3 separate regions of the Homo sapiens genome follow, and all the other regions are linked to region 1. Evidence: fine-mapped expression QTL. A gene starts in region 1. Each other region holds a variant in brackets. All regions are shown on one strand. Distances are between the middles of the regions.

Region 1 (10,820 bases):
TTCTTTTCTACTGGGGAGCAAAGCCTTATTTACACGATACTGACACATGGTAGGACTGTTCAGCATTCCTTGGGGAAGTACTTTCCAGTGAAATCAGGGAGCTGGGCCTTCATTATTGATAGCTGGTATTGTAAACGTAAATTTTTCTCTGTCCTGTTTTGCAAGGAGAATAGTATGAAAGCAGTCTTTTAAGTCAATAATGACTCAAAACTCGAGGAATCACTGCGGGGGGAAGGGAGCCCCTGTGGAAGGGGCCCCATAGGTTGCAAATTAGCATTGATAGCCTGTAAGTCATGCAGAACTCTCCATTTACCAGACTTTATGGGAATGACAAAAAATGGGTGAATTCCAAGGGCTGTCTGCTGGTTCTATATGGCTGGCTTTTAATTGTTCCTCAATTAATTCATGGGTTTGTTGTAATTTCTCTCCCTTTAAAGGTCACCGTTCTACCCAAATTGGATCTTGAGACAGCCATGTCAGGGGTAGGGGAGGACTTACAACAGTGGCCACTATTAGAAAGGGCTCTGCATAGTGACCCCCCCATTGGGCTAATAAGGTCCCATTCCCAAAGATGAACAGGGATGGGCATGATTAGAGGTTGTATAGTTGCTTTTCTTCCCTCCAAATCGTGACTTTAGAGGGCGTGCACTCTGCTTGGCTGTGTGCACTTCTCCAGTGCCGACAATTTTCTGTTTCTGAGTGACCCATATGTTTTACCCAGCCAATTGATTCTGGTTGGTTTGTCATTCACACAACTCATCATATTCTGCCATCCAGAGGAGGTATTGACTGGCCTCTAAAGTTGTTTGAGCTAGCACTGACCTGTCCCATGGGATCATAAGGAAGTTGTCTGCTATGGCCTCAATTAATCCTTTTGTAGATGGGCTAGCAGCTCTGTTTTCTCTAATGCTTTTTCTTATCTCTTTATAGGTGTTGAAAGTGATGGGCTCATATACCTGATTGCCGTGTTGATCTTGCATCACAGGGCAGGCCAAGAGCTCCCCTTCTAATGCCACTTGCCTAAGACAGGGTCCCGTAACTGTAGTGTATCCCTTGTCTTTTTTTCCAATTTATTGGAGGAGGGGGCTCAGGGAAACTCTGTCTCCTCTGTGGCACCTTTACCTAGTAACAGTGGGGCTGAGGGAGGAGGAGGCGGTCAGGTAGGTGGATGGTTCCTCTTCCCTTTCCTTTTTAGGCTCTTTTGTGTAGAGTGGGGCCAAAGCAGCCCTGATTAAGGCCCATAACGTTAAAGATGTTACTGGGACCCGTTTCCCTTGTGCATGATGTTATTTAAGATTTCCCCTCACTTGCTCCCAGAGTTCTTGGTCTAACGTGCCTTCTTCTGGGAACCATGGGTTATTGAAAACAACAGTTTGCATTAGGCCCCTTAACTGAGCCTCCGAGACCCAGGCTCTGCTAGCTTTAAGCAGCTGTTTCAATACTTACATATAGTGTTGCTGTTGAGCTGATAACTGTTGTCCCATGATGAAACCCTAGGTTGAAAATTCCCTCAAACTTGGAAATCCTGAGTGGGCACCAATTACTTACTTCCCGCACAGTCTCTTCACCTCATTTTTGGGGGTTCCATCGTGATCTGTTGCAGCATTCCTCACACAGGGCACCAGTTGCTGGGTCTGTCCCACAGACCCTGGCTGGACGATGGATGAAACGAGTACTCAGACGCAGATATGCAGTGTAAGAGCAGCTAGGGGACTGCTTGGCACTAGCGGCCAAAGAGTGAGCAGGCAAACAGCTGGAGCTGCTTGCTTTTATTCAGTATAGACATAATGCTGAAAGCCTGGAGCAAAAACAATCTGTGGGTAATTAACATTATTGTTCCCCTTTCAGGGAACGGGTCACGCATGTGGATGATCAAAGGTCAGCTCCTGGTCAATGTAAGTAAACAAGCCTATTTACGATAAATTCCCCTATGCTTCCTGGTACCTACTCCTTGCCCTCTGCCTCAGGGTCAGAAAACAGCTGCCTTCAGCTTATTCTCCCTGGAGGCTATGCAGAGGCTTCCGACTTTTCAGAAGGTCTGCTCCTTTCCCTATAGTTTCTCCCACCACTCTGACTGATCTATAGGAATCATTCCTTGGCCAGGCTAGCCCTGATGTCCTCCCCCACTTTTTTTCTTTTTAAGAGTTGGCGGTTTCACTCTGTTGCCCTGGCTGTAGTCTCGTGGTGTGATCATAACCTTCAACTCCTGGGCTGAAGTGATCCTCCTGCCTCAGCCTCCCAAGTATGTAGGGCTACAGGTGCACACCATCATACCTGGCTAACGTTCAAACGTCTAGGCTCAAATTATCCGCTTCAGTCTCCCAAAGTGCTGGGATTACAGGTGTGAGCCACTGCACCTGACATGTCCTCTCTGGATAGAGTGGACACTTGCTACCATCAGACCAGCAATGAAAAGCTGTCAACTCTTTGTCACTCAGATCAACTTTGATTAAAAGAATTATTACCAGCCAAGCACAGTGGCTCATGCCTGTAATTCCAGCACTTTCAGAGGCCAAGGTGAGAGGACTGCTTGAGCCTACGAGTTAGAGACCAGCCTGGGCAACAGAGTGAGACCCCTGTCTCCAAAAAAATAAATAATGAAAAAGAATTATTTCCAAATAATTTGGGAATACAATAAGTATTATTCTGTGTCTGGCACAGCATTTGACAAGACCCACAGAGCTAGGCTTTGGTAGACAAGAGTTCACCAACAGTTAAATTCTTTATAAAGATGAAAACACCTCCTGTTCATTGACTTTTTACTATGTGGAGGTTTTTTGCTACTTTTTCATACATAGTCTTTCTTTTAATGTAATCTTCTTGACAGTCCTATGAAGGTCTCATTATTATCCACCCCTGTTTTGCAGATGAGAAGACTGGTTTCAGAAAAGTTGAGTGCTGAAGACTACAAAGCTGTTTGTAAGTTATCAAGCTAGGATTTGATCCCAGGTCTGCCTGATAAATCCTGGACTCTTAACCATGACATAGGAGTGCCCTCTTGACTCCTATGATGGCATAAAGAATTGTATCAGAACGGGTAATCTGGCATTAAAACCCCTGTGCCACAACCGTTAGTCTAATTTTTCTCTACAGCACCATCTGAAGATGCAACAAGGATAGGAACCACTGATAAGGTAGAACATTTTATTGTCTGGCAGAGTAGAAGATGGAAGTTCCTCCCCACTAGCCTTTCCACCTTGTAATGGATTTGAACCCTTGAAGCTTAGTGGGCAGTTTTGAGAATTACATGGGCTACAGGTGAAAACTTACACATTATAACCTTAATTTAACAGCCAGTTAAGACTTGAGTGTGGTAAAAGATTCATTTATTTATTCAATCAACAAACAATGTGGCACTACATACTATATTAAAATAAAAACATACGAATAAAATATAGGCACAAAAATAGAGGATATTGCGACTATCCTTAAAGATACACATTTTAGGAAGAATGATGAGACTTTTGGGCATGCTTTCAAGCCAAAGGGCTATCATAAATGAAAAGGAAGATTGTTTGGGTCCTTGTCTGGCATCTTAAGTAGCTGTGTGATCTCGGAAGTCTCGGGCTTTAGCTTCCTCACCCACAGTGAAAATTAAAAAGAAAAATTGGGCCGGGCGCGGTGGCTCACGCCTGTAATTCCAGCACTTTGGGAGGCCGAGGCGGGCGGATCACGAGGTCAGAAGATCAAGACCATCCTGGCTAACACGGTGAAACCCCTTCTCTACTAAAAATAAAAATAAAAAAATTAGCCAGGCGTGGTGGCGGGCGCCTGTAATCCCAGCTACTCGGGAGGCTGAGGCAGGAGAATGGCGTGAACCCGGCAGGCAGAGCTTGCAGTGAGCGGAGATCGCGCCATTGTACTCCAGCCTGGGCAACAGAGCGAGACTCCATCTCAAAAAATAAAAATTAAAAAAAGAAAAGAAAAATTGAAAAAAGAAGCAAAACCGAAATCTTGATTTAGAGAAGTAGACTCTTTTTGAAGTAGAAAGCAAAACAAATTTTGGAGGACCAAATTTCTGTGAAATAGTTTTGTCTTTAGCAGTCGTTTGTTTCAGTTATAACGGTTATAAATGGCACTTCATTTGATTTCTTTAAACATTTTACTTGGCCTGCTGTTTAATCAGACATGGAAGCCAGGTATGTAGTACTGTGGTAACTCACGGTGCTGTAACTTCCTAGATTAAAGGGCCGTGGCAGTTAAAACGAAACAAAACAAAAAAATTTCTTGAATTCTGCACTGTCAGTATTCAAACTAGTTTCAGAATCTAATGGACACACTCTGCCAAACCACCGATTAGCCATTTGAGGAGAGATGAAAGATGCCTATTTTTGGAGTGAATTCTCATAGGGTTATTTTCGTCTTACGAAATGGTGTAGCGGACTGCCCTTTTTCTCCTTTACTAAGTCACCTCAGCCAAAGCGGAAAACAAAGAAAAAAACCAAACCAAACCAAAAAAACGACAAAATAGACCGTACGCAAATAGAAAAAAAAAAAACAAAACCCAAAACACCTCCTTTAAGCGTCGGTTGGGCTCTATGTTAGCTTTGACTCTCCGTGCTCCCTGCTTTGCTGGGAACACGGAGATCCATCGCTCCGTTAGGCGTTCCCTTTAGTTTTCTAAGTGTGGGAGCCTGGGGCGACGTCCACCACGGAAGGTCTCTCCCGGAAACGGTTTTCCGCCCCGCCACGCCGCCCGCCTACGTCGACCACTGGCCCGCTGCTGGTCGGAAGGCGGCGCGCAGTCCATCCCCCGCCGGGCAACGCCCGTCGCTGTGGCGTCACTGGGAGTTGTAGTTTCACTGGGCTCAGCGGTGCCTGCGCTTTAGCGCAGACGCGCGGGTGAGATCCTCACTTCCCACAGGACCTCGGGACGGGGGCGGGGCTCCGACAGAGGCGGCGATTGTGGCGGCCCATTTGTAAATGCTGCGGAGATTGAGGTGTCGGTTCGTGCTGCTGAGCTGCCCAGGCTTCACGGAGCGGTAATTTGTGGGCGAAAAGAGCGGAGGAGCTCTTTGTCCGCCGCCCTGCGCCGGAGATGGACGGCGGTGGGCGGGCAGGACTCTGCTCGGACCTCGGGGTTGGCTCGGCGGGGCGAGGAGGGAGCGGGGCGCCGGGACGCGCTCAGGCCCACGGGCGCGCTGAGGCCCACGGCAGTTCAGTGGCTTCGTTCATTCGCGCTGCTTTGTTCTTCGCAGAGCTGGGGAAGCCGGCCTCTCTGGGGTGTCTGTCTCTCTGACCTGGCTGTGGCGGAACTTGAGTTCCTGTGGGCAGCGCGGCAGCCGCAGTCCGCTGGAGCAGGGTGGTGAAGTAGCGTTGCTGGCTGTCCTAAGGGCCGGTCTTGCCCCAGCTTTGTCAAGGGCTTCTCTCTTGAAGCTTCGTGTGGATTCATGGCTTTCAAGAACGTGTTGTATTTTAGGGGACTGCTAAATCACTTCCCAGACCAACTAGTTACTTCTCACGGTCTAAGAGTGGCTTTGAATTTGCTGTTTGTATCCACTCTCCTCCCTCACCGTGCAGAGAATTTATCTTTTTTTCAATACTGCTTTAAAGAATGTTTACATAGCACTTTCTGGAGATTTCAAGGCTGTCAGTTTGTTACATTTTTTAAAAGTTTTATTGAGGTATAATTGCTATACAATAAAAATGGCACATGTTTAAATGCATTCCATTTGATGAGTTTGACATACACGTGCACCCGTGTCCTTCAGATTTTGATATCTGTAAAGTCTGAGTCCACATACTAATCCTATCTCGGCATATATATTATCAATGCTCCCTTTACCAAGACCTCAGTATCAATAATAAGTAGCAGGTTCTGGTGACGCTTTTTTTATACTTCATGCTGACATTAAATATATTTTTAGAATCGCGGTCATGAAATTGAAGGTATAGAAGGTGTGTTTGGTGGGGAGTTGGAGGAGGAGATGCAAAAGTCTGGCTGCTGCATCCCAAGACTGCTTGCACTTGTCAGTCTAGTAGGGAATTTTTCTAGTTTTCCATATTATGAAATGACCTTGTAGTTTGTCTCCCTTCTGAATTTGGATTTCGAAAGATTTTCTGCTAAGGTCATTGAAATTAAGCAAAGTTACGTGGTTGATTTTGAAAAAAAAAAAGTCATTACTTTTTTAGATTGGTTTCCTACTGAAAAACAATTTGCTTAGAAAAAGTTTTTACAAATTATTCAGGAATAACAGATATCCAGTAAAGTGCGCTAATCTTAAGTGTACAGCCTAAGTGTATCCACCCCCTGTATTAACCTTCCCAGTTGTTGAAGTCAAAAATTTGGAGATGAATCTCTTAAGTTTAACGTTTTATTTGGGAAGAAAGAATGGCGGTTCCAGGCGTACAGACCAGGTGGTCTTCAGTATGTCCAAAGAACAAAGAGAAAGCTGGAGGTTTTATAAAAAAGAGAATTGTTATATCTGTCGCTCTTCGAGAAAGTTCATTGGTTCTCCTAAGGTTCTGGGGAGGCAGCAGGTCCTACCGAGTGGGCCATGGTGGAGGGCAAAATTAGTCCTACAATTGCAGCAAGTTACCTCAGCATCTATAGATCAAATTGGTCTCGGGTTACAACCGGCAGTTTCAGCATACTGACTTATAGAGAATTCCATTCTTGGAGCAAAGTTGTGTGTCCTGAGTGCCTTTCCCTCTTGACTTCTTGATTGTTTAGTTGGCTATAAGAATGACTCAATTTGTATGATCAACTTTCACACAGACAGGACAACTCCCATTTTCCTGGATAACGACCAATATGCCATTTATAACTATGGGTTTATTTTGCCTGTTCTTCAGCTTCATATACATGGAAACATGGGCCAGGTGCGGTGGCTCATGCCTGTAATCCCAGCATTTTGGGAGGCTAAGCCAGGTGGATCACTTGAGGTCAGGAGTTTGAGAACAACCTGACTAACATAGTGAAACCCCGTCTCTACTAAAAATACAAAAAAAAAAAAAAGCCAGGTATGGTGGTGCATGCTTGTAGTCCCAGCTACTCTGGAGGCTGAGGTGGGTGAATCGCTTGAACCCGGGAGGCTGAGGTTGCAGTGAGCCAAGATCACACCACTGCACTCTAGCCTGGGCAACAGAGTGAGACTCCATCTCAAAAAAAAAAAAAAAAAAAGGAATCATATTTGTCTGATGTTCACACATCATTATTTATTTTTGTTACTGCCTGTGGCAGCAATTTTTGTTTTTTTAAATGCCTGAATAGCTGTGGTTCTCAAAGTGTGATACAGTGAGAAAATGTACATCACATTGGCATTTTTGTTTTTGGTTATTAAATGGTTGGCAGGCAATCATCTTGTTCCAAGAAAATCTTCAGTTGCAATTAATGGTACAGTAAGCCTTTATACAACTCTTCTACAACTCAACCAGGGAGCGATGGCAAAAACACAGTATCATTATGTTCACTGTCTTCTATGTCTTTTAACAGTTCTATAAACTGGCAGTTGATAGCATTTGTACATACTGAACAATTGTAACAACTATATTCATGATACTATTCGTGGATTATGCTTCAGAAAACCAAACACAAGAATTTTCAATGTGTATTATACAGGGGAATGAATCAGCGAGGGAAACAGCAGTCTCTTGTTGTAAAATCCCATTAAATTCAGATTTTTTGCCTTATAGAATGACACCATCTGTCATGATAGAAACTGATTTTTAGGCTGGGCGCAGTGACTCACACCTGTAATACCAGCACTTTGGGAGGCCGAAGCAGGAGGATGGCTTGAGCCTAGGAGTTCAAGATCAGCCTGGGCAACATAGGGACACCCTGTTTCTACAAAAAAATTAAAAAATAAAAAATAAGCTGGGCATGGTGACACATACCTGTAGGCCCAGCTACTCTGGAGGCTGAGATGGGAGGATCACCTAAGCACTGGAGGTTGAAGCTGCCGTGAGCCGTGATTGTGCCAATGCACTTCAGCCTGGGTGACATTGTGAGACCCTGTCTCAGAAAAAAAGAAAAAAAGTAATGTTTTCATATCTAGCTAAAATTCTTCTGTCAGACATAAAATACTGGGCGCAGGGGCTCACGCCTGTAATCCCAGCACTTTGGGAAGCCAAGGTGGGAGAATGGCTTGAGCCCAGGAGTTTGAGACCAGCATGGGCAACACAGGGGGACCACTCTTTACAAAAAATTAAAAGATGAGCTGGGTGTTGTGGTATATGCCTATGGTCCTGGCTACTCCGGAGGCTTGAGGTGGGAGGATCACTGGGGCCTGGGTGGTAGAGGCTCCACTGAGCCGTGATCATGCCACTGCACTCCAGCCTGGGTGACAGTGAGACCCTGTCTCAAGGAAAAAAAAAAAGATTAAAAAATATCCATGTCACAGGTTCAGTATCAGGCTTTGAATTGATATCATCTCTTTGTAAATTTAGATAATCTGTGAGATAAAACACACCTAAATTGGTGATTGGTCAGTCTCTCATTGCATTACTCAGATAAAGCTAAAGACAAGTGCTTGTAATTTTTTATGGCTTTGAACCTGGATGGTAATAGAAGGGTCTATGGACAATTGTTTGGTCACTTCGTTGAAAATTTTTCACTTTTTAGAAAATATCTTTAACCTTTTAATTAAAATATCTTTTTAAATCTCACAGTGTTCTAACAAAATTTCCTCAACTCAGATAACCTATTTACCTCCTCTTCATCTGAAAATAATTTTCTTTTTTCTTTTCATTTCTATCTCTTTCTCTCCCCTCACCCTCCTTCTTTCCAGGCTTTTTTATAACTGGCCAAAGTTAAAAGGTCAGATTCTGTTCAAAATCATAAAACTTTTTTTTTGTTGGCTATTTAGTTCTGACACAGGTGACTAATTACAGTTGACTCTCGAACAACATGAGTTTCAACTTTGTGGGTTCGCTTATGCTTGGATTTTCTTCCACTTCTGTCACCCTCGAGACAGCAAAACCAACCCTTTCTCTTCCTAAGCCTAGTCCAATGTGAGGACTAGTGACACAAAGACCTTTACTATCCATTAAGTGGAAGTGGATCATCATAAAGGTCTCCCTGCATATCTTTCATATGTTTATGTTTTTTAGACACAAAACATAAATGAAGTCTGAATACCTTTATGATGATTCATTTCCACTTAACCAATAGTAAATATGTATATTTTTTATTATTTTCTTAACTTTTCTTCTCTAGCTTACACTATTGTAAAAATACCATATATAATACACATAACATACAAAATATGTGTTAACTGTTATTGATAAGGCCTCCAGTCAACAGTAGGCTATTAGCAGTTAAGTTTTGGAGAAGTCAAAGTTACACTTAGATTTTCGGTTGCATGGGGAGTTGGTCCCCCTAACCCTTACTGTGTTGTTCAAGGGTCAACTGCATATCAATTTGTTTTTTTATTATTGAGAATAAACTTATAAAAAATTGCTGTGTTTTTGCTGAAAATGTCTCAATATTAGTTATCTTAAAATTTTTTAAAACTTTTTCTGTTCGCTTTGCCACAGCAAATTGTGGTTGCCATTTGATGTGAAACTTGTGAGGTGCCTCCTTCCAGTCTTTTTTCCTTCACTGTTCTGGTCATAGTACTAGCTTCTGCATCTCCACTTGAGTCTTCCATAGTGTAGCTTTGTTTTAAATTTTAAAAATTGTTCATACATCTTTTTCAAACTAGAAAAATATGCCATAATTAAAATACTAAACATTTCAACTTAATTCCTGCTATGGCTTGACTGTCCGCTCCAAAACTCCTGTTGGAAACTTAATTCCCAATGCAACAGTGTTGAGCGGTGAGAAATTTAAGAGGTGATTAGGTCATGAGGGCTCCACCCTAATGAATGGATTAATGCTGTTATCTCAGAAGTGGGTTACTGATTTCAGGGGTGGCTTTGTTATAAAAGAGAGCCTCTCTCTCACAGGCTGTTTTGCCTTTCTACTCTTCCCCCATGGGACAACACTTGCCAGTTGCCAATGCCATGCTCTTGTTTTTCCCAGCTCCAGAACTGTGAGAAATAAATTTCTTTATAAATTACCTAGTCTCTTCTCTGGTATTCTTTATAGCAGCAGAAAATGGACCAAGATAATTACCAATTACAATTTAAATAGATCACTGTAACTTGTACTGTTTTCATAAACTATTCAGATAGACACATAACAGTGTTATATCCATGTGTTGAAAAAAATTATTCAAACAGAATCAGTCCATTGACACTGATGAGATTGCAGACATGTTTCTTTGCAATCTGGGGGGTGATGCACACTGACATGGGCTTCAGTACAGCAGCATCTTATGCCATGCAGTGGTTAAAGTGAAATGCAGTCCTACCGAGAGAATAAAAGTGTTTAAGAGAAAAATATTTTGTACTTATTCACTTTTTAAATTTAATTAACTTTAATTAAAGTGGAAAATTCAGTTCTTCAGTCACATTAGCCACATTTCAAGTGCTCAGTAGCCATGTGACTATATGGTTGCCATACTAAATGCATAGGTCCATGTAATTGTAATTTATTTATTTATTTTTGAGACAGAGTGGCTCTGTCCCCCAGGCAGGAGTGCAGTGGCGCGATCTCGGCTCACTGCAAGATCTGCTGCCTCCCAGGTTCACGCCATCCTTCTGCCTCAGCCTCCCCGAGTAGCTGGGACTACAGGTGCCCGCCACCACCCCCGGCTAATTTTTTGTATTTTTAGTAGAGACGGGGTTTCACTGTGTTAGCCAGGATGGTCTCGATCTCCTGACCTCGTGATCCTCCCGTCTTGGTCTCCCAAAGTGCTGGGATTATAGGCGTGAGCTACCGCACCGGGCCGTAAATGTATTTTTTTGTCTTTATTTCTGATAATACACACTACTGT
Region 2 (10,820 bases), 21 kb before region 1:
AAATATAGGGGGTATGTGTGCAAGTTTGTTACATCAGTATATTGCACCCCGGTAGTGAGCATAGTACCCAATAGGTAGTTTTTCAACCTGCACCCCTCTCCCTCCATCCCCCTCTAGTAGTCCACAGTTGTCTATTGTTCCCATCCTTATGTCCAAGGGTACCTGTTTTTTAGCTCTCATAAGTGAGAATATGTGGTATTTGGTTTTCTGTTCCTGCATTAATTTGCTTAGGATAATGACCTCCAGCTCCATCTATGTTGCTGCAAAAGACATGATTTCATTCATTTTTATGGCTGTGTAGAATTCCATCGTGTATATGTACCACATTTTCTTTATCCAATCCACCACTGATGGGCACCTAGGTTGATTCCATATCTTTACTATTGTGAATAGCACAGCAATGAACATATCAGTGTGTGTGTCTTTTGGTAGAATGGTCTTTTTTCCATTGGGTATATATCCAATAATGGGGTTGCTGGGTCAGATGGTAGCTCGTTTTAAGTTCTTTGAGAAATCTCCAGACTGCTTTCCACAGTGACTGAACTAATTTACACTCCCACCAACGATGTATAAACGTTCCCTTTTCTCTGCAGCCTTGCCAGCATCTGTTGTTTTTGACTTTTTATTAATAGCCATTCTGACTAGTGTGAGAGGGTATCTCATTATGGTTTTGATTTGCACTTCTCTGACAATTCGTGAAGTGAAGCATTTTTCCAGATGCTCATTGGTCACTTGTATGTCTTCTTTTGAGAAGTATGTGTCATGTTCTTTCCACATTTTTAATGGGGCTATTTGGTTTCTGCATGTGGATTTGTGTAAGTTCCTTATAGATTCTGGATATTAGACCTTTGTTGAATGCATAGTTTGCAAATGTTTCCTCCTGTTCTGTGGGTTATCTGTTTGCTCTGTCGATCATTTCTCTTGCTGTGCCAAAGCACTTTAGCTTTATTAGGTCCCACTTGTCAATCTTTGTTGTTATTGCAATTGCTTTTGGGGACTTAGTTAAAAATTCTTTCCCAAGGCCAATGTCAAGAAGGGTATTTCTGAGGTTTTCTTCTAGGATTTTTATCACTTGAGGTCTTACATTTAAATCTTTAATCTATCTCCAGTTAATTATTGTATATGATGAAAGGTATGAGTCGAGTATCATTATTCTGCATATTGCTAACCAGTACCGCAACACCATTTATTGAATAGGGAGTCCTTCCCCTATTGCTTGTTTTTGTCAGCCTTGCAATATCAGATGACTGTAAGTGTAAGGCTTTATTCTGGGTTTTCTATTCTGTTCCATGGGCCTATATGTCTGCTTTTGTGCCAGTACCATGCTGTTTTGGATACTATAGCCTTATAGTTTGAAGCCTCTGGCTTTGCCCTTTTGCTTAGATTTGCTTAGGCTATTGAGGCCCTCTTTTGGTTTCATATGAATTTTAGAATACTTTTTTCTAATTCTGTGAAGAATGACATTGGTAGTTTGATAGAAATAGCACTGAATCTGTCAATTGTTTTGGGCAGTATGGTCATTTGAATGATACTGATTCTTCCAATCCATGAGCATGGAATGCTTTTCCATTTAATTGTGTTATCTCTGATTTCCTTCTGCAGTGTTTTGTAGTTCTTGTAGGGATCTTTCACATCCTTTGTTAGCTGTATTCCTAGTTATTTCATTTTCTTTGTCGCTACCATAAATGGGATTCTGTTCTTGATTTAACTCTCAGCCTGGACATTATTGGTGTATAGAAATGATGTTGATTTTTATACATTGGTTTCTTATCCTGAAACTTTGCTAAAGTTGTTTATCAGTTCTAGTAGCCTTTTGGCAGAGTCTTTGGTTTTCTGGGTATAGAATCATATCATCAGCAAAGAGAGGTAGTTTGACTCCTTCTTTTCCTATTTGGATGCCTATTCTTCCTTTCTCCTGTCTGAGTTCTCTAGGTAGGACTTCCAGTGCTATGTTGAATAGGAGTGGTGAGAGTGGGCATCATTGTCTTCCTCCATTTCTCATGGGAATTGTTTCCAACTTTTGCCCATTCAGTAGGTTGGTGGCTGTGAATTTGTCATAGATGGCTCTTATTATTTTGAGGTATGTTCCCTTGATGCCTAGTCTGTTGAGGTTTTTAATGTGAAGGGATGTTGGATTTTATCAAAATCTGTTTCTGCATCTATTGAGATGATGATATGGTTTTTGCTTTTAGTTCTGTTTATGTGGTGAATCACATTTATTGATTTGCATATGTTGAACCAGCCTTGCATCCCTGGACTGAAGCCTTCTTGATTGTGGTGTATTAACTTACTGATGTGCTGCTGGATTCTGTTTCCTAGTATTTGGTTAAGAATTTCTGTGTCTATGTTAATCAGAGTAATTGGCCTGAAGTTTTCTTTTTGTGTGTTTCTATGCCAGATTTTGGTATTAGGCTGATGCTGGCTTCATAGACTGAGTTAGGGAGGAGCCCCTCATCCTCAGTTCTTTGGAATAGTTTCAATAGAACTAGTACCAGTTCTTTGTACATCTGGTAGAATTCAGCTGTTGCTTCATCTGGTCCAGGGCTTTTCCTTGTTGGTAGATTTTATATTAATGATTTGATTTTGGAACTCGGTATTTGTCTATTTAAGGTTTCAATCTCTTTCTAATTCAATCTTGGGAGATTATATGTTTCCAAGAATTTATCCATTTCCTCTAGATTATCTAATTTGTGTGCCTAGAGTTGTTTGTAGTATTCTCTGAGGATCTTTTGTATTTCTGTGGGATTGTTTGTAATGTCATCTTTGTCATTTATGATTGTACTTATTTGCTTCTTCTCTTTTTTTCTTTGTTCAGCTGTCAGTCTATCCATCTTGTTTATTTTTTGAAAAACTAATTATTGGTTTCATTGATCTTTTGTGTGGATTTTTGCATCTAGTCTAAAAAAAAACAGCACTTCAAAAAGCACTTCATTCAGTGCTTCTTTAATTTTAGTTATTTCTCTTCTGCCAGCTTTGGAGTTAGTTTATTCTTTTTTCTAGTTCTCTTAAGTGCAAAGTAGGAATGTTAATTTGAGATATTTCTAACTTCTTGATGAAGGCATTTAGTGCTATAAACTTTCCTCTTAACACTGCTTTAGCTTCATCCCAGAGATTCTGGTATGTTGTGTCCCCATTTTCATTAATTGCAAAGAATTTTTTTATTTCTGCCTTAATTTAGATTTTCACCCAGGAGTTATTCAGGAGCAAATTATGTAATTTCCATGTACTTATGTAGTTTTGAGAGATCTTCTTGATACTGATTTCTATTTTTGTCTCACTGTGGTCAGAGTGTGTGCTTGGTATGATTTCAAACTTTTTGAATTTATTGAGGTTTGCTTTCTGGCCAATCACGTGGTTGATCTTAGAATATGTTCTCTGTGCACATGAGAATGTATCTTCTGTGTTTGTTGGACAAAGTGTTCTGTAGATGTCTATCAGGTCCAATTGGTCAACTGTCAAGTGCAAGTACGGAGTTTGTTAGTTTTCTGCCTCAATGATCTGTCTATTGCTGTCAGTGGGTTGTTGAAGTCTCCTGCTGTTATTGTGCGTCTAAATCTTTTTGTAGGCCAAGAAAAACTTGTTTTATGAATTTGGGTGCTCCAGTGTTGGGTGTGTACATATTTAGGCTAAGTCTTCTGGTTGAATTGTGCCCTTTATCATTCTATAAGGAATGCCCTTCTTTGTCCTTAGTTTTTATTAGTTAAAAATATGTTTTATTTGGCCAGGTGCAGTGGCTCATGCCTGTAATCCCAGCACTTTGGGAGGCTGAGGCGGGTGGATCATGAGGTCAGGAGTTCGAGGCCAGCCTGACCAACATGGTGAAATGCTGTCTGTACTAAAAATACAAAAATTAGCCAGGTGTGGTAGTGCAACCCTGTAATCCCACTTACTTGGGAGGCTGAGGCAGGAGAATTTCTTGAACCCGGGAGGCAGAGGTTGCAGTGAGCCAAGACTGCGCCACTGCACTCCAGACTGGACAAGAGAGTGAGACTCCATATTAAAAAAAAAAAAATCAACCACTTAGAATAGTACACATATTAAGTAGATCCTACATCTAGAATGGGTTAAGCAACCATTTATAAGCATCTTTATGAGAAATGATCACCTCTGGGTTTTTCTGGTAATATTTGAAATAAACATGGAACCAAACTGTATTTCCCTCAACACATAACTGTCCAAATTGAATGTGCAAGTAGAGGTTTATGTAAAAGCCCTGACAGAACTGTACTCAGTCTTTTGAATTAGGTGCATAAGGCTACTGACCACTCTCTATTTTACCAAGGGAAAGAGCAGTGACTTCTCTATTTCAGTACAATTATGGGCAGAAATGACATGATGTAAAATAGAGGTTCTTCCAAACAAGTTAAGATATAGGGTATAAGAGAAGACAGAAAGGCAAAATTCCCAAGAAATCAGAATGACTTCACGCTGGTCTTGTACTACAAGAAACCCTGAAATGAACTGTAGTCCTCAAACACCTGTGCTTGGCTCAGGCCCTCCAAGACACTTCAGTATGCTTCCAACTGGCTCATCATCAAATTCCTGCTATATTCGTAGGCCAAAAAGAGTGCTCCATTGTCAGGGAATGCTCGAATCATAGTAGGTTTCAGTCCAGAATATAAGGCCATTATTCCTAGAAGACAAAAGGGCAATCAAAGACTGTAACAATCCCTCCTTTGGGGACACCCACGCAGCTGCATAGCACAGGTATATTTACACATGCAAATCCAGGCAAGAGTGCTAAAAACCAACAAGTCATGGATGGATGCGTTCCCAGCTTTCCCTAAATAGACCAACAGAAACAAGAACAAGTATCAGGTCTCCTGG[T/C]GAAACTGACTGATGCTCAGGTAACATACCCCAATTCCATGCTTGGTTAACTCTTAGTATATGGATGGGGCAGAGTTGAGGCCTGAGACAGCCAGACAGAGGCAACCATGGAGACAGAGGTGGCCACAGCTTTGCAGCTTCACCTGGGCAGTGGCAAGAGCACCAACCTTGAGGTTGGAGACTGGTTTATAGTATTAGTACTGCCCAGGGTGGTCATGAAGATTGAATTAGATAAGGGAGGTATAAGTACTTTGTAAAACTTCACGTTATACAAATTTAAGGGAGGATTACTATGAGTAATAGACAAGGTATCTGTGCTCTATTTGGGACACAAAGTTTCTGTGTTACTGTTCTCTTTCTTTTTACAATCAAAACAGAGAAGTTCATATCTCAGATTTTAAGATGTATACTAGATGCTGGAAAAACAGGTGTTTACTCACCTTCATTTTTCACAACATTTATAAAGGTTCTGATAAATCCTGCCTGTTTTCCAGACATGGAAAGAACTTGAATTCTTTATTTGATACAATCCACTGGATATACCGCAAGCCAGAGGCAAATCCCGCCAACTCCCTCCACCACTTAACATCAAAGGGACAGGGCCTAGAGAAAAAAAAATAGCAAATGGTATTTTATCTCAAGAACAGCTGACGTGACATTCCCAGAGTTCAATGTAGTAATGGCTGCAGGTAGGTGAAAATAAAAATGCTAATGCTGCGGAAGAGTTCTTTGTGGAAACTGTCAAAGCTGTTGTTCCCAGGCTCTAAGAACACAAGGTTTTGTTTGGTAGCCCAGGTCTACCCCTGGGTCTTGCCAAGTACAAGAAGCTCTAGTGAGGGTTGTATTTCATTTGGTCACTGAGGTGTGGAGGGCTGGCCCACACGAACCAGCAGGCCTCCAGCTGAGTGGCAACCCTTTACGGTGGGGGGAAGACAGGCCAAACGCAATCTACATCTTTTTTCAACTTTCTCACTCTTAAGTATTTTAATAGCCCCGATTCTTCCTTTACCATTAAAAGCCAAAATTGTTTTTATTAAACATAGCAGATAAGTCTGGGAGCTTGTCTAACCCCAGAATAGATTCAACATGCTGAGGGAGATGGTAAGAATAGGTAAATGCATTTGCATTAAGTGGAGTGTGATGGTGTTTGCTCCCTGCAGGTATGGTTTCTGTGGATTCTCTGCTCTTTGTGCTCTCCTCCCCACATTGGTGGCTCCATCTGGCACAGGGAAGCTTCTGGATGTCAGAAGGTAACATGTTGGCAGGCAGTTGATAGCACCCCACCCTCCAGGCTTGATAATTTCCTTAGGACAGGGACTGAAGCAGTACATCCCAAACTTTCTTACTGGAATAAAGTTTGCTAATTTTTCTGTCTTCTTGGGCAATCGTATCCAGTCCCAAGCCTTTTAAAAAAACAAGCTATACCCATCCTGGTGGAATTCCTGCCTATAAAAGGGGACACCTTCAGACCTCCAGGCACCTCCAGAAAACACTGCTGTGCGCAAGGAACAAAATTCAGTTGTGTGGGACATGCAGCTGCAATCGGGTTTCAAACTCCCATTGCTGATGATCAAGTTAAAATACGAATGTGCTGGATTAAATGCTTTATTCAGCTTATCTGCATCTAGGTTATCTAAACTACGCAGCCACTTAAACCATTCTGTCACCTCTTCTCTTGGAATACTTAATTATTTTAATGTAATTCAGATCTCATTTTATCCTAGCCCAGCAGCACCTGGGAGAGAATGACCCTGAATTAATCATAGTAAAATCATATTAAATTATATTCCACTGATTCAGAATTGGAGATAATTTGGCAATTAAAGGGAGAAGTGTGTCATTCCTCTCCTGGAAGAAATGAACAGTAATGATGGGATCACAGAGATCGTACATACAAGGGCCCAATACACACACGCCCACCAGCAAACGGCTTACATACCAGGCTCCCAACCATACTGTTTCAATTTCTATCTTTCAAACTAACTGTAAATTACAAACGTGGTACCCAAATACCTGTATGCGCATAAATAGGAAAAGGTAAACTCTTTTTTTTTTTTTTTTTTTTTTTTTTAGGTGGATTCTCACTCTGTCACCCAGGCTGGAGTGTAGTGGCACAATCTTTGCTCACTTCAACCTCTGCCTTCTGCGTTCGAGCAATTCTCCTGCCTCAGCCTCCCGAGTAACTGGGATTACAGGCATGTACCACCACATCTGGCTAATTTTTGTATTTTTAGTAGAGACGAGGTTTCACCATATTGGCCAGGCTGGTCTTGAACTCCTGACCTCAAGTGGTCCACCTGCCTCGGCCTTCCAAAGTGCTGAGATTACAGGCTTGAGCAACCTTGCCCAGCCAAAAGTAAACTTTTTAATTCTATCACAATATGTTCTAGATCTTTGACAGACTGAAAGACATAAAATGTCAAATGGTGAGACTCTGTCACGTGGATAAACACCCTCCTACTGCAGATACAGAACTGAGCCCAAGAGCATTCACGTGCTGGTGAGAGGTGGCCAGGGGCAGGCAGATGGTTGCACCATTCTCAGGGTCAGCATCTTCCCCAGTGTGGCACGGGGGAGGGGAGGGGGCCCGGGGCCTGGGAGGCTGTAGCCTAAAGGCATGCGGTGGGCGAGAGACTACTGGGCAGGCCCCTGCCAGCCTTCAGTTCCCTGAGCATCTGGTGCCAGGACGCTCCTTGTGGGCTCTGCCCTGGGAGAAGTGCCCTTGCCCAGTGCTCCTTATCAGTGTCTGTGATGCGCTGTCTCCAGTCCTCCTCATTAGCATACCTTGGCCGACCTTTGGCTCATGGAAAAACACTTTGCTCTTCTCTGAACAATTTCTTTTTCACAGCTGAGCAAATGACTGATGAGGTGACCACACTCATGACCATACCCACCCGTTGGTGGTGGGTGGGGGTGGACTGGATGAGGACAGCATTGGGCAACACTCCTTCTGGCCTCCCCACTGCAGGGAGCCGCAAGTACTATGAGAGTCCTGTGGGACGCCAGGGTAGTCCAGGGTTTCCCTTTGGGCAATCAGCCTTCCAACCTCTCCTCCTACTTCTGGCCTCTGGAGAACTAAATTACTACCATGAACTTCCCATTCTACCTGTGCCTCAGCCCAAGGGTCCTGCTCTTCCTGCATGTTCAAGCTGATCTTTCTAGGGAGTAGCCTGCACTGTGCCAGCACTACCCCCTTGTCACAGGCAGCACCTCCCTGTGCCGGGGGAGCCTCAGTCTGCCCTTGGGCTCAGGCCCCTAGGCTCAAGTTAGCTGACATTCCCAGGAAATCCTACAACTTCTCCTTTCCTTTCATGGCTCTGAGACACAGTCCATTATCAGTCTCATTGTAAAAGACACTTCTAAAGAGTGTCCTCCTTTCTTTCCCAACACTGGCAGGGACAGTAAGTGGTGTTTCCTGGGAGATGCTACGGTGTTATTTTTGCACTACAAGGGCTCTGAAGACTGCCAGGCTTGAAGTGAAGAACCACGTCACCTGCCTATCCCAGCCAGGTGACAGTGGACAAGGGGCTTCACCTCTGAGCTGTTTTCCAGCTGTACTGGGCACATTCCTCCTCTCACCCTGACTCACAAGGTGTTAGCAATAATGGACACTCCTCTATCTTCTGCCACACTCTGAACAATACTTCACTTCCATCAAATGGATTCATCCCAAAGGTAATGCCCATCGCTTCTGGAGGGAGAAAGGTAATGTTTTCATACCACTTTCATTTGATCTCATTTAGAAGGTACTTGAGTAATAGAGAAGACTGGGTTTTCTCTGGGATTATACGTAGGCATTTCTTAATGACTGGGACATGTTCTGAAAAATGTGTCATTACACAATTTCATCACTGTGCTATCATAGAACACACACACCCGACCCTAGATGGCATAGCCTACTCCACACCTAGGCTGTACGGTATGGCCTGTTGCTGAAGTCTACACACCTGTACAGCATGTTACTGTACTGGATACTGTAGGCAACTGTAACACAGTGGTATTTGTGTATCTAAATGTATATAAACACAGAAAAGGTATAGTAAAAGATGGTATAATCTCATGGGACCACTATCAGATAAACCATCCATCACCAACAGAAGCATGGTTATGAGACACAGGACTGTACCTGCAGCCGCCACCATGAGGTCAATGGCAGCCTGGATAGTGGAACCCACTCTTCTGCTGGTCTCATGGAAGGCAGCTCTCTGGAGCTTATGACAGGCACCACATATCCCTGGGGGGAGGCAAGAGTTCACCATTAGTCCAAGTCTGCAGCCTCCCATTGTCTAGGCCTGCAGCCAAATTACTGAACCTAAACTTCTGGGAGCCATGAACTGGGCTCTACGTTGTTCCAAAGGAAATGGGCTCAAGGTATCAGTGCGGCTTAGCAATTGTCCCCTAAAAAGCTCACAGATCAAAAACCTCCACTGTGTATCAATGCTACAGCCACCAGCAGCACTTCAAGTGACCTTTCTGAAAACTGAAAAAATGAACACCAAATAAGTAAGCCAACCACAGATGTACTAACCCACATCAGGCTTGCTTTTTTAGAGGCCTGTGCTGAGCCATCAACTGAACAGGCTCAGTTCTAAATTGAGACAGCAGCCTGTGCTGGGTGCCTAAGGGGATGTCTTTGAGATACAGTTGGTCTGGAAAGAAGCATCCAGGCAGCCAAGGGTGGGAGCTGTACCCCGGGATCACAAACACCTTGGGGAATGCCTGCTCTACCTGCAGTTTGGCCCCTTTGCCTCTACAGCTGGGAGTCTTCATCTGTACAAGGTGAATAATAAAAATATTATAAAACAAAGGCAGTCACAAATAGCCCCAACACCATGCCATGGGGGCTACAAAGTCCGGCAGAGTCAAAGGAATGAGACAAGACAATAGTACATAAAGTGGGTCCAGGGCACTCAGGGCTGTGAAGGCCCTGAGCTCTGGGAGCCCACACTATTTATTGGTGATAAAACAAAGAAGCAGGGGGTGAGGATGTGCTGGTCAAAAGGAAGTGGTCGCATCAAGTGTTTAATTTATAGCTGTGTCGGTTTAGCATTTCCTTTGAAGCATATGGAACATGTTCTGCTACTCGAGATAATGTTGAATATGTCCTTATAACTCAAGATACAATCAATTTATGATCCTGGGAGAGCAAGAAGCAAGGAGCCAGCAAGTCTGGGCACATTCCAGAGGCCACGAGGGGTTTTATGTCCTGAGTCGTGGATTCCATCCAAGCCATGAGGGGTTTTATGCCCTGGGCTTAGGTTGTAGTGCAGCGGGGCAGCCTTCCACCCTTAAGCACAGAGGCTGGTGTTGCACAGGCCACAAGAGGTTTTAAACTCTGGACCCAGGACATGTTCCAAGACTCTTTATATTATGTCAGATAGCAAGTGTTGCCTCAGCTTTTCTCCCAACAATTGGACTGATGGGATGCTCCACTGTGCACAAGCATCATGGGTTCTTAGAACAAGGCCCTGCACAAGCACCAAATATGTTCCTGTCACCACAGTCCACTAGCCCTTCAACTATAATCGTGCACAGGAGTCGCCTGGGGGCCTTGCTAAATAAAAATGCAGCTTCTGATTCAATAGTCTCAAACAGGACCAGAGATTCTGCCTGTCTTGATGAGTTCTCGAGTGAGGCAGACAATGCCAGTTCACAGACTCACACTTTGAGATACAGCACCTGGGCCATTGTATTCTAATGTGCTTGATAACCTGGAGCACCTATTAAATATCCAAGTTGTCAGGACTTTCTTCTGGAAATCTTGATTCAGTATGTTTTGTTTGGAGCCTTAGATGTTTGGGAAAACTAGAATTTCTTTCTTTCCCTTTAGACAAAAGTCAACTACTGCTGAGGCATGGGCTTAATAAATGTTGACTAAAATATCCAACTCAACAACCAATCCTGTATAATTTTCAAACTGTGTCAGTAACTTGCCAGGTCCAACCTGCAGACCCTGGCCACATGACGGGTGAAGAAATGCACTCAGACACAGG
Region 3 (10,820 bases), 21 kb after region 1:
AGGTCAGCAATTGTGCTCTTCTGATTAAATCATTCTAAGGCTTTAGAGATTTATCTATAATTTGCCTTAAAAATAACTTTGAGATCACTTGGATATACCAAAATTAATTCAAATATTATTCTTTTATTTTAGGAAGCAGAAGGACCATTGCCAATCAAAGCAAAACCAAAACAACCATTTTTAAAACGAGGAGAAGGTTTAGCTAGATTTACTAATGCCAAATCTAAGTTTCAAAAAGGCAAAGAAAGTAAACTAGTGACTAACCAGAGCACTTCCGAGGACCAGCCGCTGTTTAAAATGGATAGACAGCAACTCCAGCGGAAAACCGCTCTTAAAAATAAAGAGCTGTGTGCAGACAACCCTATCCTTAAAAAGGACAGTAAAGCTAGAACCAAGAGTGGTTCTGTCACCCTCAGTCAGAAGCCGAAAATGCTGAAGTGTAGTAACAGGAAAAGTCTTTCTCCGTCAGGATTGAAAATACAGACGGGGAAGAAATGTGATGGGCAGTTTAGAGACCAGATCAAATTTGAAAACAAAGTCACATCTAATAATAAAGAAAATGTAACTGAGTGTCCAAAACCTTGCGATACTGGCTGCACAGGGTGGAATAAGACACAAGGTAAAGACAGACTTCCTCTTTCAACAGGGCCGGCCAGCCGGCTGGCTGCTAAGAGCCCCATAAGGGAGACCATGAAAGAGTCTGAATCTTCTCTTGACGTTTCTCTTCAGAAAAAGTTAGAGACTTGGGAACGAGAAAAGGAAAAGGAAAATTTGGAATTAGATGAATTTTTGTTTTTAGAACAAGCTGCTGATGAAATATCATTTTCTAGTAATTCCTCATTTGTACTGAAAATCTTAGAAAGGGATCAACAGATCTGCAAAGGTCACCGGATGTCTTCCACCCCTGTCAAAGCTGTGCCACAGAAGACAAATCCGGCAGATCCCATTAGTCATTGTAACCGCAGTGAGGATTTGGACCACACTGCACGTGAGAAGGAGAGTGAGTGTGAAGTCGCACCCAAACAACTTCATTCATTGTCCTCAGCTGATGAATTGAGGGAACAGCCTTGTAAAATCAGGAAAGCCGTCCAAAAGAGCACTTCTGAAAATCAGACTGAATGGAATGCACGTGACGATGAAGGTGTTCCAAATAGTGACAGTAGCACTGACTCTGAGGAACAGCTTGATGTTACCATAAAACCATCGACTGAGGATAGAGAGAGGGGCATCAGCAGCAGAGAGGATAGCCCACAAGTCTGTGATGATAAGGGGCCTTTTAAGGACACCAGGACCCAAGAAGATAAAAGGAGAGATGTTGATCTGGATTTGTCTGATAAAGATTACAGTAGCGATGAGTCTATCATGGAAAGCATAAAACATAAAGTGTCTGAGCCCTCGAGATCCTCATCCCTAAGTCTGAGTAAAATGGACTTTGATGATGAAAGAACTTGGACTGACCTTGAAGAGAATTTGTGTAACCATGATGTTGTTCTTGGGAATGAATCCACTTATGGGACGCCGCAGACATGCTACCCTAATAATGAAATAGGTATCCTGGACAAAACAATAAAAAGGAAGATTGCACCAGTCAAGAGGGGAGAAGACTTGAGCAAGTCCAGGAGGAGCAGAAGTCCTCCTACATCGGAGCTGATGATGAAATTCTTTCCTTCTTTGAAACCAAAACCAAAGTCAGATTCACACTTGGGAAATGAACTCAAGTTAAACATAAGTCAAGACCAACCACCTGGTGAGTCAGAGCATTATAAAATATGTATCAGAATGTTAGAAATTTAACATTAATCAGTATGCTGTCAGAATGCTTAAAATCCTAACTTTCCTTATTGCTCAATAGAATTAAGTCAAATTAATGGGTGATTTGTAAAAATTTGATTTATTTTATGGGTCTATATGAGGCTTTAAAATTAATTAGTTTTTAATAAAGTGAGATAACATCAAAGCTTCTACGTTTCCTTTCTTCCCCAGACCTGGTTCAAGTACCCCTTCCTAGAGGTACCAGTATTACCATTTCGTTTGTGTATTCTAAAGAGTCCGTGCATATAAAAGCATATGTGTCAGTTTGTATATAATTACCTTTCTATACAAATGAAAAGACTCTTTTTGTATACTGTCCTGCACCTTGCTTATGATAAATTTTGAAGATTGTTCTAACGCATGTACACACCTACCTCATTCCATTTAACGGATGTGTAGTATTTCTGTTGATGTAACGGACTTTTTAAACTCACCCTGAAAGATTCCTTTCCATTATATTATATTATAAACTAGCAGAGCATAGGTGCTTTAAAATAGAAATTAAAATAGAAATTATAACGTTAATTTTCAAAAATTCTGATTTTAAAAGTAATTTTTTTGTACAAAGTTTGGAAGCTTAAAAAGCATAGAAGCAAAAATATTTACAACTTAACTACCCAAAAGTAACTGCTATGCCATTTTGGGATATTTCATTCCAGTCATTTTTTCTATGTAGTTTTAATATGACAGAGTTGTATAACTTAGCTCATTTCTTTAGCCTTGTGGATCACATTTAGTTTCTAAAAAAGTACTAATTGATAAAAATGCTTGAAGGACAGAAGCACTGGCTATTTTACATTTTAAATAGCAAATTTGATAAAGGGAAAACAATTTGCATTTATTTGATTAATAGTAGGGGTAAACTTTGATTTTGGTGTTGATTAGCTCTTCAGATCTCTTGTGGATTACTTATTCTTAAGCTATTTATATATATTCGTCTTTGAAAAATTGATTTGAATGATTTCTTTTTATGTATCATGTTGATTCCTTGTCAGGTCGATACTCTTTTGAGGTAGATTAATTCTTCCATAAATTCCCACTGATTTCCTCAGGAAAGTTAGGTTTAATTTTTTTTCCTTTTCATGTTTGAAGCATTGTTTCTAATGCATTTTAATAGCACAGATGTTTGCCATATTCTTGGCTCTTAGTGTTACTAGCTAGCTAGTGTTTTTGCTGCAGTAATGCCTTTTTTGAAGTTCAGTATTTATGGCCTATTTCATAGGTGACAATGCTCGATCCCAGGTTTTGAGAGAGAAAATTATTGAATTGGAAACAGAAATAGAAAAGTTTAAAGCTGAGAACGCATCTTTAGCTAAACTTCGCATTGAACGAGAAAGTGCCTTGGAAAAACTCAGGTACGTTTGGGTCTGTAAGTTGGGAAAAAATATGCAGTGACTCAGTTATACCTTTAAGACCATCTATAAACAGTCTGAAACAATTTAAATCAGTCAAACAAATATAATTGAAAAGGAGGTGAAATCTGTATCATATAAGTTTTTTTTACTGAATAAAATGACCCAGGGTAGTCAATGATGTGTACAAAGGGGAATTTTTCTTAGTGGAGAGATCATAAATTAAAATTTGAAAAACAGTTTGGAGCTATGGTACCTTCAAGTGGTACTTTGGCTAGTTAGTGTATTGGTTTCTCTGGGCTGCTGTAACAAAGTACCAGCAACTGGGTGGCTTTAAACAATAGAAATGTATTTTCTTGTGATTCTGGAGGCTGTAAGTCCAAAGTCCGGGCATCAGCAAGGCGGGCCATGCTGGCTCCTCCAGCTTCTGGTGGTTTCAGGCACACGTTGGTATTTCTTGGATTGCAGCTACATCACTCCAGTCTCTGCCTCTGTGGTCACATGGCCATCTTCCCTCTGTGTGTGTCTTCACATGGCATTCTCCTCTGTGTGTGTTTGTCTTGGTGCCTCTTTTAAGGATAGGGTCATATTGGTTTAAGGGCCCACCCTACTCCAGTATAACGTCATCTTAACTGGCATCTTAATTGTATCTGCAAAGGCACTATTCACAGGGATTGGGACTTCAACATATTGTTTTAGAGGACACAACTCCACCTACAGCAGTCGATAGTATGACATATCGTCTCCTACCCTAGGTCATGATCTTACCTGACTTTATTGGTTAGCAAAACTTGAACTGAACTTACATGAGGCTATTTATATATGTTATATTTATTATTTCTCTCTATATAAATTTTACGTAGACATATTTTTTAATTGTACTTGTGAATAGTACTAAGTTCTGTTGCAGGAACATACTAGTACTTTTTATTCCAGGTGTTGCTCTGGGTCTTGTTGGGGATATTATATGTCACATACACACCGTATTTCTTTGTTTTTTGGTATTTGTTATTTTAATGTTTGAGGAGAAATTCATACAACTGTAGTTCCCATGGCTGCCTGCTGCGGGATGGGATCTAGGGGATGGTAGCTGCTATGCAAATGCTGAAATTCACCCAAATTTCCCAGCCTCTTTGTTCTTTAGCACTCCCCAGGATGCTGCAAGTCTTTCGTTAGTGTCCAGAGTTCCGAAGTGGTTGATTCTGACAGGTGCTGCTAGTTCAATAGCTGCTTTGGTGGAGGGACTGATTGTTGGAGCTTCCTACTCCACCATCTTCCTTAACATCTCTTCCGTATTTCTTTTCTAAAACCTGAAAAATATGAATTCTAAAGCACATCTGGCCCCTAAGTTCCAGATAAAGGTTTATAGACAGCTATTAATCCACTTAAAAAGGAAATTCGGTTACTATACTATAATCTGCAGTATGCTTAAAAATCAAATTCTGAAAATTTGTTACTTTTTAATGGAAACATCTTTGTTTTTC[A/T]GCTGATACATACTGTAAATGTATGCTTATCATAGTAGTTATGGGTAAAATGTGGAACTTATTCCAATCCGTTCTCCACCCAAGATCACTTTTAAAACGTCTCTGCTTCATTATTTCAAAACGGACATCTTTTTCTTTTAAAGAACATTTAAGTCATAAGATAATGGCTGGGTTTTTGTTTTTTTGTTGTTGTTTTTTGTTTTTTTTTAGCATTTTCCCTATTTCGGTTTTGCTTTGTTCTAAGCAAAATTCAGTCCTCGAATTTAGACATTGTGTTATCCTTCCCAATTGACAGATGAGGAAACTGATGCACTGAGAAGCAAGTTTTTTAAGTTTACCTCCTTAGTCAGTGACAGAGAGCCTCAGTGCCAGCCTAGGCAGTGTGGTTCAGTAGAGCCCTGGGCTCTACTGTATGGGCTCTTTAATCTGCTTTTTATTTTATTTTTATTTTTTTGAGACAGGGTCTGGCTTTATCACCCAGACTGGAGTACAATGGTACAATCTTGGCTCACTGCAACCTCTGCCTCCTGGGCTCAAACCATCCTCCACCTCAGCCTCCTGCGTAGCGGGGACTACAGGCACGCACCACCACGCCCAGCTAATTTTTGTATTTTTGGTAGATACGGGGTTTTGCCATGTTCCCCAGGCTGGTCTTGAACTCCTGGGCTCAAGTGATCCCCCTGCCTTGGCCTCCCAAAGTTCTGGGCTTACAGGCATGAGCTACGATGTCCAGCCTTGCTTTTCATTTCAACAACATAATAGACATCTTACCTATTAGCACGCCCTAGTCTTCTGTATCCTTGAAATGACTGTATTATATGAATGCCACTGTGACTAATCAGTTAATGGAAATTTAGCTTGTTTAGAATTTTCCACATTAGAAATTATTCTGCAGGGAATATCGTCATATGTATAAGACACTTTTTATTTAAAAATCTACTTCCTTGTGATAAATTTTAAGAATGTCCATTGCCCCAGTCAGCATCTGAGGCTTCTTCTCACCCCTTTCCCCATCACTGGAGTTGAGCGTTAGCAGTCTTTCAAATCTTGCCAACCTGATAATTATGCCATCTTTCACCTGCTAAAGTTTGTATTTATTTAATTATTGATAAAGTTGAGCATGCTTTTATATTTAGTGGTCATTTGTGTTTATTTTGTAACTTTCTTTGTGATCTTTGCTCATTTATCAGGATATTTAACTTTCTCAAATGTGCCACAAGTATTCCTCCCCCAGTGTTTGCTTTGACTATATGATTGTGTGCACACGGTCGACATTTTGAATAGTCAGTAAGAATGTCTTTTACCTTTTCTGTCTGCTCTCCCTCCAGTGAGGCAGGGAGAGACTTGTCCGGTCTCAAGGCTTTAAATGCTGTTACGCCCCAGATCCAGTTCTCTCGCCCACATCTCCTATCCCACTGCCTCGTTGTTCTCTCTACCTGGAGAGCTGATGAGTGTTTAAATTGATCATTTAGAAAAAGTGAGCTCCTGACGTTCCCTCCTGAACTTACTCTTCTCTTCTTCTTCCCTGTCTCAGCACATGAGTCTGCTCTTCCATTTGCCCAGTGGAAAATCTTGGAGTCATGCTTGAGTCTTCTCTTGCTCTCTCAGTCCATTTCTAACCCGACTGCTTCACTGCCTCAGAGCTGCCACTCTCCACCAGGACCCCATTGGCTTTCTCTGGTTATTAAATTCACTTCCTAGCAGGTCTCTCTGCTGCCCGCGTCTGTGCTCTTCACACACATCCAGAGCCAGCCTGCGTTTGGACGGTTCATCTGATCAAGGCCTCCTTCCTCTTTTTTTTTGAGATGGAGTTTCACTCTTGTTGCCCAGGCTGGTGTGCAATGGTGCGATCTCGGCTCACTGCAACCTCTACCTCCCAGGTGATTCTCTTGCCTCAGCCTCCCGAGTAGCTGGGATTACAGGCATTCGCCACCATGCCTGGCTAATTTTGTATTTTCAGTAAAGACGGGATTTCTCCATGTTGGTCAGGCTGGTCTCAAACTCCTGACCTCAGGTCCAGCTCCTGGCCTGATCTGCCCGCCTCGGCCTCCCAAAGTGCTGGAATTACAGGAGTGAGCCACCGTGCCTGGCCTGTCTCCTCCTTTTTTGACACCTTCTCCTGCTACCCATCCTTTGCTCACTGTGTTTTAGTCACACTGGCCTCCTGGCTGTTCTTTGAACACCTCAGGCACATTCTTGCCTCAGGGCCTTGGCACTTGCTGCTCCTTCTGCCTGTACTGCTGTGTGTGGACACCCTTGTGACTGGCTCTCTCATTTTCTTCAGGTTTCCTTCATGTTATCTCAGCAAGATAAGCCCTCACATACAACACAGTTTCACCCTCCCACTCTGATATTTTCTAAACTTCTTCCTTGCTTTATTTCTCTTTAATGCTTCTAATATTCCATGTACTTATTTATCTTTATTATCGTCTGTCTTCCAATAGAATGTAAGAAGCTGCATGGGAATACATTTTTTTTTTTTTGAGACAGAGTCTGTCTGTGTCGCCCAGGCTGAAATACAGTGGTGCGATCACAGCTCATTATAACCTTGAATTCCTGGGCTCAAGCCTGCCTCAGCCTCCCAGTGTTGGGATTATAGACTTGAGCCACTGTGCCCAGCTAGAATGTTTGTTTTTTTCACTGTGGTTTCCCCACTACTTCGTCGAATGCCTGATTCATCGTAGGCACCCAATGAATGCTTATTGGATGAATGCTTTAGTGAGTGGATTGGCTGTTATTTCAGGCCTATGGATTGAAGATGAATTCACTAGGACTAGCAGTTACTAGCCTGTCAGCAGGTTCTGCACATCACTGCACTGAGATGGTCTCCTTAGGTGATAACATAGTTTGGTCATTTTAGGAAAGAAATTGCAGACTTCGAACAACAGAAAGCAAAAGAATTAGCTCGAATAGAAGAGTTTAAAAAGGAGGAGATGAGGAAGCTACAAAAGGAACGTAAAGTTTTTGAAAAGTATACTACAGCTGCAAGAACTTTTCCAGATAAAAAGGAACGTGAAGAAATACAGGTATGCTAGTTCTTTATGTTATATTCATGTAAGTTAGTAAAGGTGACAATCTTGTAAGCATCTCAGAGTTATTTCTTATGTCAAAGCAAAACTGTGTATCAATCCATTATTCATTCATTCAGCAAATAATCTGTCTGAGACAGTGTATCAGGAATATCTTTGGTAGTCTGACTTTTAAAGAGTAGAAGATTTCAGTTCTTTTCTTACTAGTAAAGTCTTCCTAGAAAAGACCACGATAATGTCATGGATGAATTAACAAGCCTGGAGTTGGAAATTCACCAGCATTATGTTGTGTTAATCTTTTTGACCTACCACCCACCAAATATTGTTAGTTCTGTTCATTTATCATAATTTATGGCTGTAAATAACCAGGTGTTTAATTCTAAAACTTATAAACTGATAGGCCAGATTATCAGTCTTGTTCATTTCATAGTTAGAAGTGGACATGCTAAAACTATAAACCTTCTAGAAAAAAATAGGTGAATTTATTTACGACATTGGCATATACGAAGATTACTAAGAGAAGACACAACTAACTATAAAAGAAAAAATGGATATATTGGACTTCATCAAAGTTGAGACTTATCAAAAGAGAAATTTAAAATGGCTATCCATTGCTTCTAGTATAAAATGCACCTTCCACTGTCTGTATTTTAATTACTAGCATTTTTGAGTTCCATCCTTTGCTTTCTTCCTGTCTCATGCAGCCATCCTTGAGCAATCTCACCTGCACACGTACAGCTTGAGTTATTGAATAGCATGGTGTTCAGGGTCTTTAATTCTCCTTCTTTATTTTTGTGGGAAGAAACGTACCATTATGTTTTGGTTAATGCTTAGTTTATTAAATCTAATATGTTAGATGTTGACAATATTAAAACTTTTATTTCAAAAGGTAATATAAATATATTATCATTCAAAAGTTACAAAAAGATGGGTGGTGAAATTCCTCCCCAACCCTTGCTCCGGCCACCTATTCAGTTGTTTTTTGAAAATAATTTTTTATTATAGAAAGTTTCAAAAATACATAAAAGTAGCAAGAACAGAATGAATTCCCATATTTTACCAGTGATCATTTTGTCTAATTTCATCTCTCTCCCCGCTGTACTCTTTTTTTGCTTTTTAATCTGGAATTTAAAAAGTGAAATCCCAGACATCTCCTCATTTCACCTATACATAGTCAGTATGTTTCTCTGAGAAAGACACCTTTAAAAAATAAGACTATTGGCTGGGGGTGGTGGCTCACTCATGTAATCCCAACACTTTGGGAAGCCAAGGCAGGCAGATGGCTTGAGGTCAGGAGTTCGAGACCAGCCTGGCCAACATGGCAAATCTCCATCTCTACGAAAAATACAAAAAAATTAGCCGGGTGTCGTGGTGTGCCTGTAGTCCCAGGTACATGGGAGGCTGAGGCAGGAGAACCACTTGAACCCGGGAGGAGGAGGTTGCAGTAAGCCAAGATCATGCTACTGCACTCCAGCCTGGGTGACAGAGTGAGACTCCGTCCACGGGGCGGGGGACAATTATCATACCTTTGTCACACCTAACAAAATTTACAGTAATTCCTTAGTATCAAATAATACTTAGTCCATATTCAGATTTTCCAGTCGTTTGGTATCTTTTTACAGTTGATTTGTTTGCATTCTAATTCACCTCTCGAGGCAGCCAGTGTTATCAATCTCATATTTTCCCAGAGAAATTCTTAGAAAGTACATATATACATTCATGATGTTTTTTTAAACATTAATGATAGTTTACTGAAATCATTATGTATCTTAACAGAACATCTTTGTTCTTTGTTTTATTATTGTATAGAATTGTAATATGTGCCATAATTTACTCACCTAAGCACTATGTATTTCTGTTCTTTTTCTGTTTACAAGAATCCAAGAAGGGCTGTACTGAATAACTGCGCATATGTGACCTCTCACAATCATTCTCCCACTTATTCATTCAGCACATGGCTACTGAGTACCTGCTGTGTAGCAGGCATATACTGGCAATGCAGCAGTGAACAAAACAAATCAATCCCTGTCCTCATGTAGCTTATGTCCTGGAGTATATCTCTAGGATGGATTCCTACAAGTGAATTTTGAGGTTAAAGGTATGTACATTGATACAAATTGCCAGATTATCCCTCCATAAACATCATGCCAAATTTTAGTTCAGTTTTTTATTTTTATTTTTTGACACACTCTGTGGCCCAGACTGGAGTGCAGGGGCTCAATTTCAGCTCACTGCAACCTCCGTCTCCCAGATTCAAGCGATTCTCCTGCCTCAGCTCCCCAAGTAGCTGGGATTATAGGTGCCCACCACCATGGCTGGCTAATTAATTTTTAGTTCTACTAGCAATTCTTAGAGTGTTTTTTGTTCTCTACCTGATAGGTAAGAGGTTTAAAATTGATTTTAAACTTAATTGAATTTCTTTTAAACAATCTGAGTTATAGTTACAAATTTAGTATGGCTGTTTTTAGTGAACAAGACATATACTTGAACCAGTAGTTATAACAAATTCTGCTATCAGAAAACTTCACTAAATTAAAAACCATAGCCTAAAATACATGATGGGTTTGTCATTTCATTTTTCTTTCTGGATCTCCTAGGATTAGAGATAACCTTGCTGTGTTATGAAAATCTTACCAGATCCAAAGGGAAAAAATAAATAACCTCCTTAGACCACACAAGGTTGTGAGATTGATTGCTTTTTTTCCTTCTCTTTCTCATAGCTCTGATCCTGACTACTTCTTCCAAGGATTCAAACCAGAGCAAACACACTTCTTTTTGTTGTTGTACTTTGTTAGATGAATAACGTGGGTTTTCTTTTCTTGCAACTTGATGCCTTTCCCTCACAAGATGTGTCCTCTGATTCTCAGGCTCTGCAGTCCAGGCTGCTAGCTCTTATCCCTGTGTGGCTATTTCCATTTAAATTAATTAGAGGTAAATTGAAAATTCAGTTTCTCATTCCCATTAGCTACATTTCCAGGACTTAGTAGTAGCCACCTGTGGCTGGCTGGTGGCTGCCACACTGCACCATGCAGGACTGGGCACATCCTCACTGCTGGCAGCTCTGGGCTGTGCCCATTCAAGGGGCTTGTTGGGTGGCAAGGGGCTGGGCTGGTGAGTTGCCGTCCCTCTTCAGGAACTCATTC

Alleles and levels. Alleles are on the strand shown, and positions count from the first base shown. SD is a standard deviation of normalised expression in the study named. Not every link is listed here.
With allele T in place of A in region 3, the expression in nucleus accumbens of the gene that starts at base 4,882 in region 1 is higher (moderate effect, 0.53 SD a copy in GTEx).

The links. PIP is the estimated chance that this variant, and not a neighbour inherited with it, causes the effect. A credible set is the group of variants that fine-mapping cannot tell apart.
Region 2: its variant is the best candidate, but not a certain one, in a credible set for the expression of CPAP in lung (TOPMed, PIP 0.51).
Region 3: its variant is the best candidate, but not a certain one, in a credible set for the expression of CPAP in nucleus accumbens (GTEx, PIP 0.75).

Annotation. Positions count from the first base shown.
Region 1 is chr13:24,916,923-24,927,742 of GRCh38, reverse strand. It overlaps CPAP (centrosome assembly and centriole elongation protein), which reads left to right and starts at 4,882. Exons shown (of 17, transcript NM_018451.5): 1 at 4,882-4,982. RefSeq lists enhancers at 3,935-4,836, 4,837-5,738.
Region 2 is chr13:24,938,189-24,949,008 of GRCh38, reverse strand. It overlaps the pseudogene TPTE2P1 and the pseudogene SLC25A15P3. Among named protein-coding and RNA genes, the nearest start is that of CPAP, 21 kb to the right of the region's middle. The variant T/C (reference allele first, on the strand shown) is at 4,828.
Region 3 is chr13:24,896,273-24,907,092 of GRCh38, reverse strand. It overlaps CPAP (centrosome assembly and centriole elongation protein), which reads left to right. Exons shown (of 17, transcript NM_018451.5): 6 at 1-2; 7 at 133-1,747; 8 at 3,035-3,167; 9 at 7,509-7,674. Among named protein-coding and RNA genes, the nearest start is that of CPAP, 21 kb to the left of the region's middle. RefSeq lists an enhancer at 6,503-6,582. The variant A/T (reference allele first, on the strand shown) is at 4,649.